Linked DNA regions of Homo sapiens: region 2 is reported to be linked to region 1. Evidence: microRNA targets listed by miRTarBase, many of them from high-throughput screens and not tested one by one. Region 1 holds a microRNA gene; the other region holds the end of a gene's coding sequence.

Region 1 (5,374 bases):
TGTAAATAAAAATAGACAGGGTACCCAGTGTTGCCTGGCTATCTACATGCCCAGGTTCTATAAAAGTTTTAGCTCTGAGTGCATTTTGGCTTGGTAATAGGAGTTTGTTTCCAGGTCATTATTTATGACTCCAGTTTTAATATGCATATCAAATAAAAACTTGGGCAATTGTCATGAAAGGAACATGCAGGATATTTTAATGAACACTTCTGCATTTAAGGAGGTCTGGGAGAAGGGTGGTGAGAATGGTAATGAGTCATACATCTATGTTGCGCCACTACCCTTAGCCATTGCTTTTCGGAGACCCTAGGCCTAATTAAATAATAGCTAGACTCCATCATATGACAAATGATTGACTAGCTATGAGCATGGGGCATCCTCATTTCTCAGCCCAGTCTCATGTTCATCATGTGCTATTAGTCATAAGTCTCTAGCATTTATAGAAAATAAACACAGTTGCTCAGTTCCCACCCCCAAATGAGGAAATTAGTATGGAATGGAGCCCTGGAATCTGCATTTTGTAAGGCTTCTTTGGTGATCCTGATGCACATCCATGGTGGAGAGCTCTGAAGGGGTTGTGAGAAGAGAGACGGGAAAGCGAAGGAAGCTACAGAAACCCAGAGAGGCCCGCAGAGGTCTGAGGAGGGGCTGGGGGCACGGAGGCAGCAGTGCCTGGAAAACCAGTCCCGCCCCAAGTTCACATGCAGGAACAGAGTGGGCGGCACAGCGGGCTGCACACAGGGCACGTCTTCGATTCAGAGCTGGAGTGGAAGAAGCAGCCGCCGCAGCCCCGGTGGAAACTCCGTGACTCTTTTCTAGCAGCCATCATGGCTGCAAGGGCCGGGCTGTGACCAAAGGAGGGGTCTGAGGCAGGGAGGGTGGCATGTGCCCTTACAGAGAAGGTCCCACAGAGCAGAGCCACCCAGAGGCACAGCCTCAAAGGACTGACCTGTTACAAGATCCCAGAGCCCTAGGCTCCCCAGGAACACTGTCACTGGAGAGATCCTCTCTGGGCCCAGACCCAACCATCACCCAACTCCAATCCTCTCCCTTGAGCCCAAGACCCTGGACCTTCCCTGGGCGGGACCACAGCAGAGCCAGCACTGACCCTCAGGTTTTGGCAAAATGTCTAGTGAGGGAACATCTTCATTTATGGTCCAACCAATTCAGTACAAAGCCTCTGCCTTCTCGCTCTGTGAGGTAAGGGGAAGGGGTCATGTTTTAGAGACAGTAATCTCCCCCTTCTCTGGACAGCCAGACATGTGGTGCCCGTTGCCACAGGGAAGGTGACATAGCAGAAGCGAGCCTTGGCTTTGGAATTTTAAAAGCTTGATTCTGAAGGTGGGTGGCAAGAACTCAGGACACTTACAGTGCATTTGGAAGAATATATGATGGGTTAAAGAATAAAAGCCTCCTCTCTCCCCCACTGGTCAAGATTCCATAGGTTGGCAGGGCTTGGGGAGCAAGGCGAATGTTGACATTTCTGGAATTCTTGAGAAAAGGACCCTGAGAAGGAGGTTGCGGCTAAAGAGGGGGAAAGTATGACAAATACTCCATATAGGTTTGGAGGTGATAAGTGTAGGCAAGCACTGGGTAGAAGAACCCACACGCTTCCTGGGTAGAGCCTGGGAAAACAGCAAGCCACAGAGCGGAACAAGGGACTGGGCTGTCTATCTTAGCAGTTGGCCTGGAACAGAATTACTGAGCTTCCTGAAGCCAGAGGGTGTGCAGGGCCAGGAGCTAGAATCTTCCACATGCTCCAAGCCACAGGTCCCCAAATAGGCTTTGTGGAAGTGAAGGAGCCCCTGGCAGACCTTGCATGACCAACTGATGACCAGATGGGGAGGGGATGTCCAGGCAGGTGCGAGCATGGACGGATGATGATAGCCGAGGAACAGAGTCTTACATGACTTAAAGCCACACCCCCACCCGACCGAGCTTAACCCCAGGAAAAGGTCAGGGGGAGACTTTGAATTGACTGAGATTAATTTCTACCACCTGCTGAAACGGGGTTCCTAATAGAAATTACATTCTGTGTTAGAAAAATAAAGTTATGCTTCTTGCAGATTAGAGTTTGTAGGCTGAGTTGTACCTACTATATAAGTAATGAATTAATTTTTTCTTTATGATTTTGTAAAGAAAAGAGAAGAAAGAAATTTCAGTAGAATAGCGCTACATTGCAAGAGAAACGGCACTTGTGATTTTTATCCATTTTCCTTCTAGTCTTTGAATTTAGAAAGCACAAGTCTCTTGCCACAAGTTCAGGTCAAATGACTGCAGCATTTTGAGTGAAACCAATAAAATCTAAGTTCATGGATTGTTCCTTTTGTTTTGTTTTCTCAATTGCTCATTCTCAGGGGTCCATATACAAGGCCATCCATCCCTGGAGACTAAGAACATGGCTCACTGCGAGAGCTAAGGAGTTTTCTGGACAAGAATGGAGGGAGGACTCCCCACCTCCAACAGGCAGTTCTATAAATAACGGCTGCTCCATGGTGGCCCCTGAAATGCAGCATTTCAGCAGCCTTGAAATGACAAAGCCTGGAGAGTAGGAGGGCAGTGGCGACGTTGCTGGGAACAACAGCTGGGACTCCCAGGAGCTGAAGGCTGAAGCCATAGGTAGCCCAGAAACCGAGGAATCCAGAAGCCCTGACTAAACCCACTGGGGCCATCCGACCCAGTCAGGCGGCAAGGGGATGGGCGGGCATGGAGCACAGATGGCCCTGGGGTAATCCTAGTGCCTCTGGTTCAGGGACCTCCAAGCTTGACTCAGCTGTTCTCCTTAATTTCATCATCCCATGGTGCACTGGGCATGCCCGAGGGCTTCTGGGAGCACAGGTAGGGCAAGGGCAATTTGGGAGGGCTGAAGAAGCCTGTGGGGAAAAGAAAAGGGAAGATGGTGACCACATAGGAGGGACAGCGGCCTTTCCAACAGGGGACCCTTGCCAGCCATGGTGAGTAGATGGAATCTGTGCCCATCCTCTGCAAGCCCCTAGCAAACGTGTGACCAGGAAAGAGTCTGAGATCATGTCACATTTCCTGAGATGAGCACGTAGGTAGAAGCTCCTTCCTTTAAGCTTTAGTTCTTACTGGGGATGGAAATTCCATCCAACAAATGTTGATATAGCTTGCTTCCTTCTAAGGGGATTTCCAGCAGGTGGAAATTGAATTGTGAGGGAACAAGTAAATCTTCCCAGAGTGTCTGAAGTCACATCGCAGCCTTAGCTTTTAGCCGGGGCTTTGTCCCTCCCTTCTAGGACAGTCTCCATGACCTCAGCTGAAAATGGGACAAAGTGGGGACCTGTGAGTCCTTACACTTGCAGTTTTCACAGGGCTGCTCAGCTTTGAGCTTGGCCACTCCCATCCTCAGGGTGTCCCAATCTGAGATCCAGGAAATCAGGAAGACTAAGAGGCTGGTGTCATGGCCCAGGGCAGAGCCTACCTGAATCATAGCTGAACCAGCAAATGGGGGTGGGGGAAGATGAAGGCTGAGTTCTCCAGTTCCCTTCATTGGCTTCCAGGTGTGCAGGTGGCTTGGGATTGAGGACTCAGATCTTCTCAGGCCCCGAGGGCATCGATGCCAGCAGGGCTGAGCACCAGTGCCTGAAGGATGTCGGAGAGGGAGACCACGCCCAAGAGATGCTGGGTCTCGTCCACTAGCACCAGCCTGTGTACCTGTGGGTCCGCAATGTTCAGTGAGGGGGCAGAGCCATGGGGCTACAGCAGCTACTGAGGTTGGTGCCAAGAATCAGGGGAAACAACCCAACATGACTGAGGGAGAGAGCGTCTCCTAGAAACCAGTTAGGGATGGTGTGACCGGCCTAAGGTGATCAGTTGGCAGTGACCCCTGGCATAAGGGCCCCATGGACAGGACCAGGTGCAGGCCAGTGTGGGCACCAGGAGTTGGTCATGAAATGGAAGGATAGGCCAGGTGCCCGATGTTCAGGGATGGCTGGAGCCGTGCATGAGAAGGACTGGGCTATATGTGTTGGGGGCATGAATGGAGGGCACACGGTACCTGCTCCCGAGCAATCCTGTCGATCACTTCCCCCAAGCTCTCGTGGGGCTGGCAGGAAAGGACTCCCTCCAGACATAGTGTCCTCTGCCTCAGGGCTTCTCCCACACTCATGTCCAGGTGGTTGTAGGTTTGCTGGGCAGCCAGGTGCTGGGGCAGAGAGAGAAGTATGGCTCCTAGTCACCCCCTTGCCTGGGCTCCTACCCTACAGATGTCAACCCCTGCATACTTGTCAAGGTCCCCCTGGTCCACAGAGGCCCCCCACCCATCCCCACACCCTTAGCCTCCCTGCAGCATCCCACCTTTCCAGCGACACTTACAATCACATCAAAGCGGGAATAGAGGCCCACGACCTGACCTGCAGAGGGTGGTTGTGGGGGGTGGGGGGAGAAAGACAGGGAAGAGGCTCCGGTCAGAACCGGGGTGCTGTGTAGAGGGCCTAGGGCTATTTGCATCAGGGTGCCACTACCAGAACCCAAGGATCAAACTTAGCATCCCAGAGTGAGACAGCCTGACATTGAGCATCCTGAGGAAATGCAGTGTGAGTAACATGGCACCACCTACAAAATAGTCTAGCCTCGAATTTATTGCCCAAATCTCTTCAAGCCTTTAGATATAATTTCAGTTTACAGGAAACCCAGGAATAGAGAACAAAGTAAAGGCCAGCTCTAGAAAGCAAACAGACAAATCTGGATGTGGGGTATCCTATAGGACAACTGACCCAGGCTTTTCAACTCACCCACGTCATAACAATTTAGGGGGAATGGAGCTGTTATAGATTTAAAGAGATTTAAGGAACAAAAGACACGAATGTAAACCATGGACTTCAATTGGATCCTGTTTTGAACACATCAACTATGAAAAATACATTCCCTTGGGAGGCCGAGGTGGGTGGATCACAAGGTCAGGAGTTCAAAACCAGCCTGGCCAACATAGTGAAACCCCATCTCTACTAAAGATACAAAAAATTAGCCAGGTGTGATGGCACGCACCTGTAAACCCAGCTATTTGGGCGGCTGAGGCAGGAGAATTGCTTGAATCTGGGAGGTGGAGGTTGCAGTGAGCCAAGATTGCACCATTGCATTCTAGCCCAGGCGACAGAGCAAGACTCTGTCTCAAAAAAAAAAAAAAAAAAAATTCTTGGCCGGTCGCGGTGGCTCATGCCTGTAATCCCAACACTTTGGGAGGCCAAGACAGGTGGATCACTTGAGGTCAGGAGTTGGAGACTGGCCTGGCCTATATGGTGAAACCTCATCTCTACTAAAAATACCCCCCAAAAATTAGCTGGGCGTGGTGTCATTTGCCTGTAATCCCAGCTACTCAGGAGGCTGAGGCACAAGAATCACTTGAACTCGGGAG
Region 2 (5,360 bases), not on the chromosome of region 1:
GAATCTCAGGAGCCTTATGGGCCAAGTAGGTCTAGGAAACCAGCAGGGCAGAGAGCTAGGACCTTGTGCAGGTGAGCACAAGCTAGCTCCTCCGGATTCATGGGTGAAGGTCATGCTTTGATCCATGGGCAGCACCTATAATGGTCACCAGGAACCTGAGGAAATGGGAGGGAAGAGGAGAAGGGGGACGCCCCTTCCATTTTTCTCTCTGCTGTCGATCACTCCAGAAGGACAAAGGAGACTAAGGGATGCCTTTTCTCTCCTCTTTTTCTAGATATGTAACAAATCATCTTCAGCCTATACTCCTCTCAAGTGCATTCTGAAACACTGGAACTCCTTTGACACTCAGACTCTGAAGAAAGAGCACCTCATATTCTTTTGCACTCGGGCATGGCCGTCTTACCAGCTGCAGGATGGGGAGGCTTGGCCTCCTGAGGGAAGTGTTAATATTAATACTATTCAACAACTAGATGTTTTCTGCAGACAGGAGGGCAAATGGTCCGAGGTTCCTTATGTGCAAGCCTTCTTTGCCTTGCGAGACAACCCAGATCTTTGTCAGTGTTGTAGAATTGACCCTGCTCTCCTAACAGTTACATCAGGCAAGTCCATAGATGATAATTCCACAAAGTCTGAGAAACAAACCCCTAGGGAACACTCGGATGCAGTTCCGGATGCCCCAATCCTTCCTGTCTCCCCTATCTGGGAACCTCCTCCAGCCACAACATCAACAACTCCAGTTCTATCCTCCCAACCCCCAACTTTACTGTTACCCCTACAGTAAATGCCTGATGGACCTGGTGCCACTAGGGTCCAAGTTCCCTTTTCATTACAGGACCTTGGGCAAATAAGAGGGGACCTGGGCAAGTTCTCTGATGACCTGATAGATATATAGAGGCTTTCCAAAACCTAACTCAGGTGTTTGACCTTACTTGGGGTGATGTTATGTTGCTCTTAAACTCTTAACTACTACAGAGAAACAGGTAGCCCTGCAGGCAGCAGAAAAATTCAGAGATGAACAACATGTCTTCTATAGCCACTCAATAAGGAAAGAAGGTGAGAAACAACCAGCATTCACATACCCAATAGGAAGCGAGGCAGTGCCCCTTGAACAACATAATTCGGACCCCAGTGGTACCTTAGATGAGTGGCAAAGAAAACATTTTCAAATGTGCTTATTAGAGGGCCTACAGAGGACCAGAGCCAAGCCTCTTAATTACCCCAAACTCTCCATGATAGATCAAAAACTAGATGAAAATCCCTCAGCCTTTTTGGAAAGGCTGAGAGAGGCTGTAGTGAAACACACTTCCTTGTCTCCTGTTAGGTATGTTTATACCTCACATAAATAATTCAATTGAGGGACAGCTAATTTTGAAAGACAAGTTTATTACTCAGACAGCCCCTGATATCAGAAGGAAGCTAGAGAAACAGGCCATGGGATTAGATAGCACCTTACAAAACCTCCTGAAGGTAGCCACCTCGGTCTTTTATAATAGGGACCAGGAGGAGGCCCAGGGGAAGGAGAGGAAACACAAGAAAAAGGCAGAGACTCTGGTGGCCACTTTGTATAAAACCCAGTATCCCCAAGGTACACCTGCTAGTTGCTACCAATGTGGCAAACTAGGGCACTTCAAAAGGGACTGCCCAGGCAGCAAGAAGAAGCCACCTCAACCCTGTCCAGTATACAATGGGGACCACTGGAAGGCAGACTGTCCTGGGAAGCATAGGTCACTGAGTCCAGAGCCAGTCTCACAAATGGTCCAGCAGGACTGATGGGTCCTGGGGCTCAACTCCCTGGCTCCAGTGGCTCAGACTGCTGTTACTACCCGGGAGCACCAGGTGATTCTGGAGTTCGAAGGGAGGAAGGTAGACTTCTTTCTGGACACTGGAGCCAGGCTTCTGTTTTCCTCTCCAATTCAGGCCTTCGTTCCTCCCATAGCACAACCATGATGGGCATCTCAGGAAAGACTTTAACTTGATATTTTTCTCAACCTATTAGTTGCAGTCAGAGGGACCTACTGTTTACACAGGCCTTTTTAGTCATGCCTGAAAGTCCCACTCCTTTATTAGATAGAGATATTCCAGCACGTATGGGGGCCACCATCCTTATGGCTCCAGGACAAACTCCGCCTCCCCTTAGTGGAAACCAGTATTAACCCAGAGGTTTGGGCAACTCAGGGAAGAAGTGGCCGGACTATAACCACTATACCAGTCTGGATCCACCTCAAGGATCCCACTTTTTTTCCTAACCAGAGACAATACCCTCTGAAGCCAGAAAGTAGAAAAGGGCTAGACGCCAGCATTGATAACCTAAAGGCACAAGGCCTCCTTAGGCCTTGCAGTAGCCCTTGAAACACCCCAATATTAGGGGTGCAAAAATCCAATGGGGAAGGGAGACTAGTTCAGGACCTCTGCCTTATTCATGAGGCTGTGATTACGATTCATCCAGTAGATCCCAGTCCCTATACTTTGCTAACTCAAATATCCAAGGGAACTAAATGGTTCACAGTTCTGGGCCTAAAGGATGCCTTTTTCTGTATACCTTTATACCCTGACTCCCAATACTTGTTTACCTTTGAAGACCCCTCCAATCAAACCACCCAGTTAACCTGGACTGTACTGCCTCAGGGATTTAGAGATAGCCCCCACCTATTTGGGCAAGTATTGTCAAGAGATCTCTTCGAATTCTTCCATTCTCAGGTTAAAGTTTTACAATATGTAGATGACATTCTCCTCTGTGCCCCAACTGAGGAAGTTTCTTGAGACGGCACTGAGGCTCTCCTTAATTTCCTAGCTGGAAAGGGATATAAGGCTTCAAAATCTAAGGCTCAGCTCTATCAGACTTTGGTAAAGTACCTAGGTCTGGTCTTGTCAGAAGGGAACAAGAGCACTAGGCGAGGAGAGGATTAATCCCATTTCCTCCCTTCCTCTCCCCAGAACCCTCAAGCAGCTGAGGGATGCTTGGGCATTACAGGTTTTTGTAGGTTATAGATACCCAGGTATGATAAAATAGGTTGCCCTTTATATCACCTTATAAAAGAAATTCAAGTGGCTAAAACTCACTTCCTGACCTGGGAACCTGAAGGTCAAAAGGCCATTAATCAGTTAAAACAAGCCTTGCTTAAAGCACCAGCCCCCAGTCTTTCTGTAGGGAAGTCCTTTAATCTTTATGTATCATAAAGGAAAGGAATGACCCTGGGAGTTTTAATTCAAGTTCAAGGCCCAGCTCAACAGCCAGTAGGTTACTTAAGTAGAGAGCTTGACTTGGAGGCTAAAGGATGGCCAGCTTGCCTCTGAGCAGTTACAGTAGTGGCCCTGCTAGTCCCAGAGGCCACCAAGTTAACCCTGGGGAATAACCTGTTTATGCCTCACATAAATAATGTGGCAGGCTTGCTGTCCTCTAAAGCGAGTCTCTGGCTAACAGACAGCTGCCTCCTCAAGTATCAGACTTTGCTGCTAGAGGAATCTGCAGTCCAGTTAAAAACCTGACCTTGCCTGATCCCAGACACTTTCCTCCCAGAGGAAACTGGAGAAACTGAACATAATTGTGAACAGACTGTAGTACAACCTATGCCGCTAGGGAGGATCTCAAAGAAATTCCCCTAGAAAATCCAGACTGGACCCACTTTATGGATGGGAGCTCTTTTGTAGGACAGGGAGTCTGAAAAGTGGGATATGCAGTAGTCACCCTAAATAACATTGAAAATGTGCCTCTCTCACCAGGCACACACACTCAATCAGTTGAGCTGATCCCTCTCACAAGAGCACTTGAACTAAGCAAAGGAAAGACAGCTAACATTTATACTGACTCCAAGTGTACCTTTCTAGTTCTCCTTGCCCATGCTGCCATCTGAAAGGAAAGGCACTTCCTCACCGCTAATGGGTCTTGCATTAAATACCATCAAGACATCAACAGGCTATTATCCTCAGTGTTCCTCCCATGAGAATTAGTGGTCAGACATTGCAGAGGGCATCAGAAGCGGGTAGATGAAATAGCGAAAGGAAACAGGCTAGCAGACCAAAGAGCTAAGTCAGCAGTAAGAAGGCCCCAAGGTCCCAAAACACTTGAGGCCCCTCTGATTTGGGAGGGCTACATAAGGGAAATAAAGCCTCAGTATTCCCCTACAGAGATAGAATGGGCCACCTCTCGAGGTATACTTTTCAACCCTCAGGATGGTTACAATCAGAAGATTGCAAAGTACGCTTGCCAGCCTCCAGCCAATGGAAGATTCTTAAAATCCTCCACTGAGCCTTTCACTTAGGAAAGCATAAGACATCAGTGCATCCAAAGATTGTTCTCAGGAGAAAATCTACTAAAAATGGTCAAATAGGTTGTTAATACTCGTGAAACCCTCTTAAAAATAATCCCTTTAACAGATGACTTCTTCCCCACCACAATCAAAGGATGGGAAGTTACTCAGGGGAGGACTGGCAGATAGACTTCACCCATATGCCCAAAATAAATGGCATTCAATGTCTTTTGGTGTGGGTGCATACCTTCATTAACTGGGTAGAGGCATTCCCATGCCCAACAGAAAAGGCCTCTGAGGTGGTGAGAATACTAATTAGTTAAATAATTCCTCACTTTGGGCTCCCTAAGTACTTCCAAAACAACAATGGTCCCTCATTTAAAGAAGCCTCTACCCAGTAGGGCCGAGTCTGCTAGGACTTTTTATTGGGTTTGGTAATACGTCACACCCTTTAGCCTCTACTGTGTCAGCCATGTCCCATTTATACAAGACAAATTGCTGGGTCTGTCCTGAGCGGTTTGCTCAGTTCAGTAACACTAAGGAACCTCTTGATGACTTGGTATTTACTGTCTTAGCATTCCCTTTGTTAGCTTTACCTTTAGCCATTAAAGACTTGTCAGGCATAAATGGAACATGGTATGGGAACACTTTCAACTGAGTAACTAACTCCTCCCAGGAAAGCATTTCCTCCCTGGTGCCAGAAAACACTTTCCCCAAAGATAAGCCTCACACCCTCAGGCTAGGAAAAGTTGGCCGGGTAATAGCAAATGCCTCCTCCTGTTTTAAAAGCAGAGGAAAAGGACCATACCTGGGAGATCTCAAATATTATAACACCATACTTGTAATTGCTGAAAGCTCGGAAGTTTGGAGAAAAAGACATAAGAAGGATGATCTAAGAAAATTGGAAGCCATATGGAGGGGAGGCTTTCAGAATTCAGCGTCTCCTCCTGGTTGAAAGTCCTGCTGGGAATGGCAGGCTCTGGGTAACCACCCTGACACATGGCACTATAATGTAAAAAACAACACATAGGCCTTCCCAGACATGCACCCTCATGGGATTCCAGACCCCCTGTATGATGCTTAGTAGTAGTGGCCTACAAATCTGTGGGTGAA

Evidence for each region. Region 1 holds the annotated microRNA hsa-miR-9500 (AAGGGAAGAUGGUGACCAC, at 2,889-2,907, shown strand). A microRNA usually pairs through its seed, bases 2 to 8, with sites in the 3' UTR of a target mRNA and lowers its output. Matches are read on the target gene's strand: a 7mer-m8 pairs with bases 2 to 8, a 7mer-A1 pairs with bases 2 to 7 and ends in A, and an 8mer does both.
Region 2: the mRNA of NCR3LG1 is a reported target of hsa-miR-9500. The part of its 3' UTR that is shown has no 7-base or 8-base seed match.

Annotation. Positions count from the first base shown.
Region 1 is chr2:218,820,204-218,825,577 of GRCh38, forward strand. MIR9500 (microRNA 9500) reads left to right here and starts at 2,887; the gene lies at 2,887-2,951. PRKAG3 (protein kinase AMP-activated non-catalytic subunit gamma 3) reads right to left here. Exons shown (of 14, transcript NM_017431.4): 11 at 4,336-4,373; 12 at 4,019-4,165; 13 at 3,443-3,675; 14 at 2,105-2,873. The coding sequence ends at 3,559. RefSeq lists an enhancer at 2,659-3,858.
Region 2 is chr11:17,371,732-17,377,091 of GRCh38, forward strand. It overlaps NCR3LG1 (natural killer cell cytotoxicity receptor 3 ligand 1), which reads left to right. Exons shown (of 5, transcript NM_001202439.3): 5 at 275-5,360. The coding sequence ends at 781. Among named protein-coding and RNA genes, the nearest start is that of KCNJ11, 14 kb to the right of the region's middle. RefSeq lists a silencer at 1-187 and an enhancer at 4,609-5,147.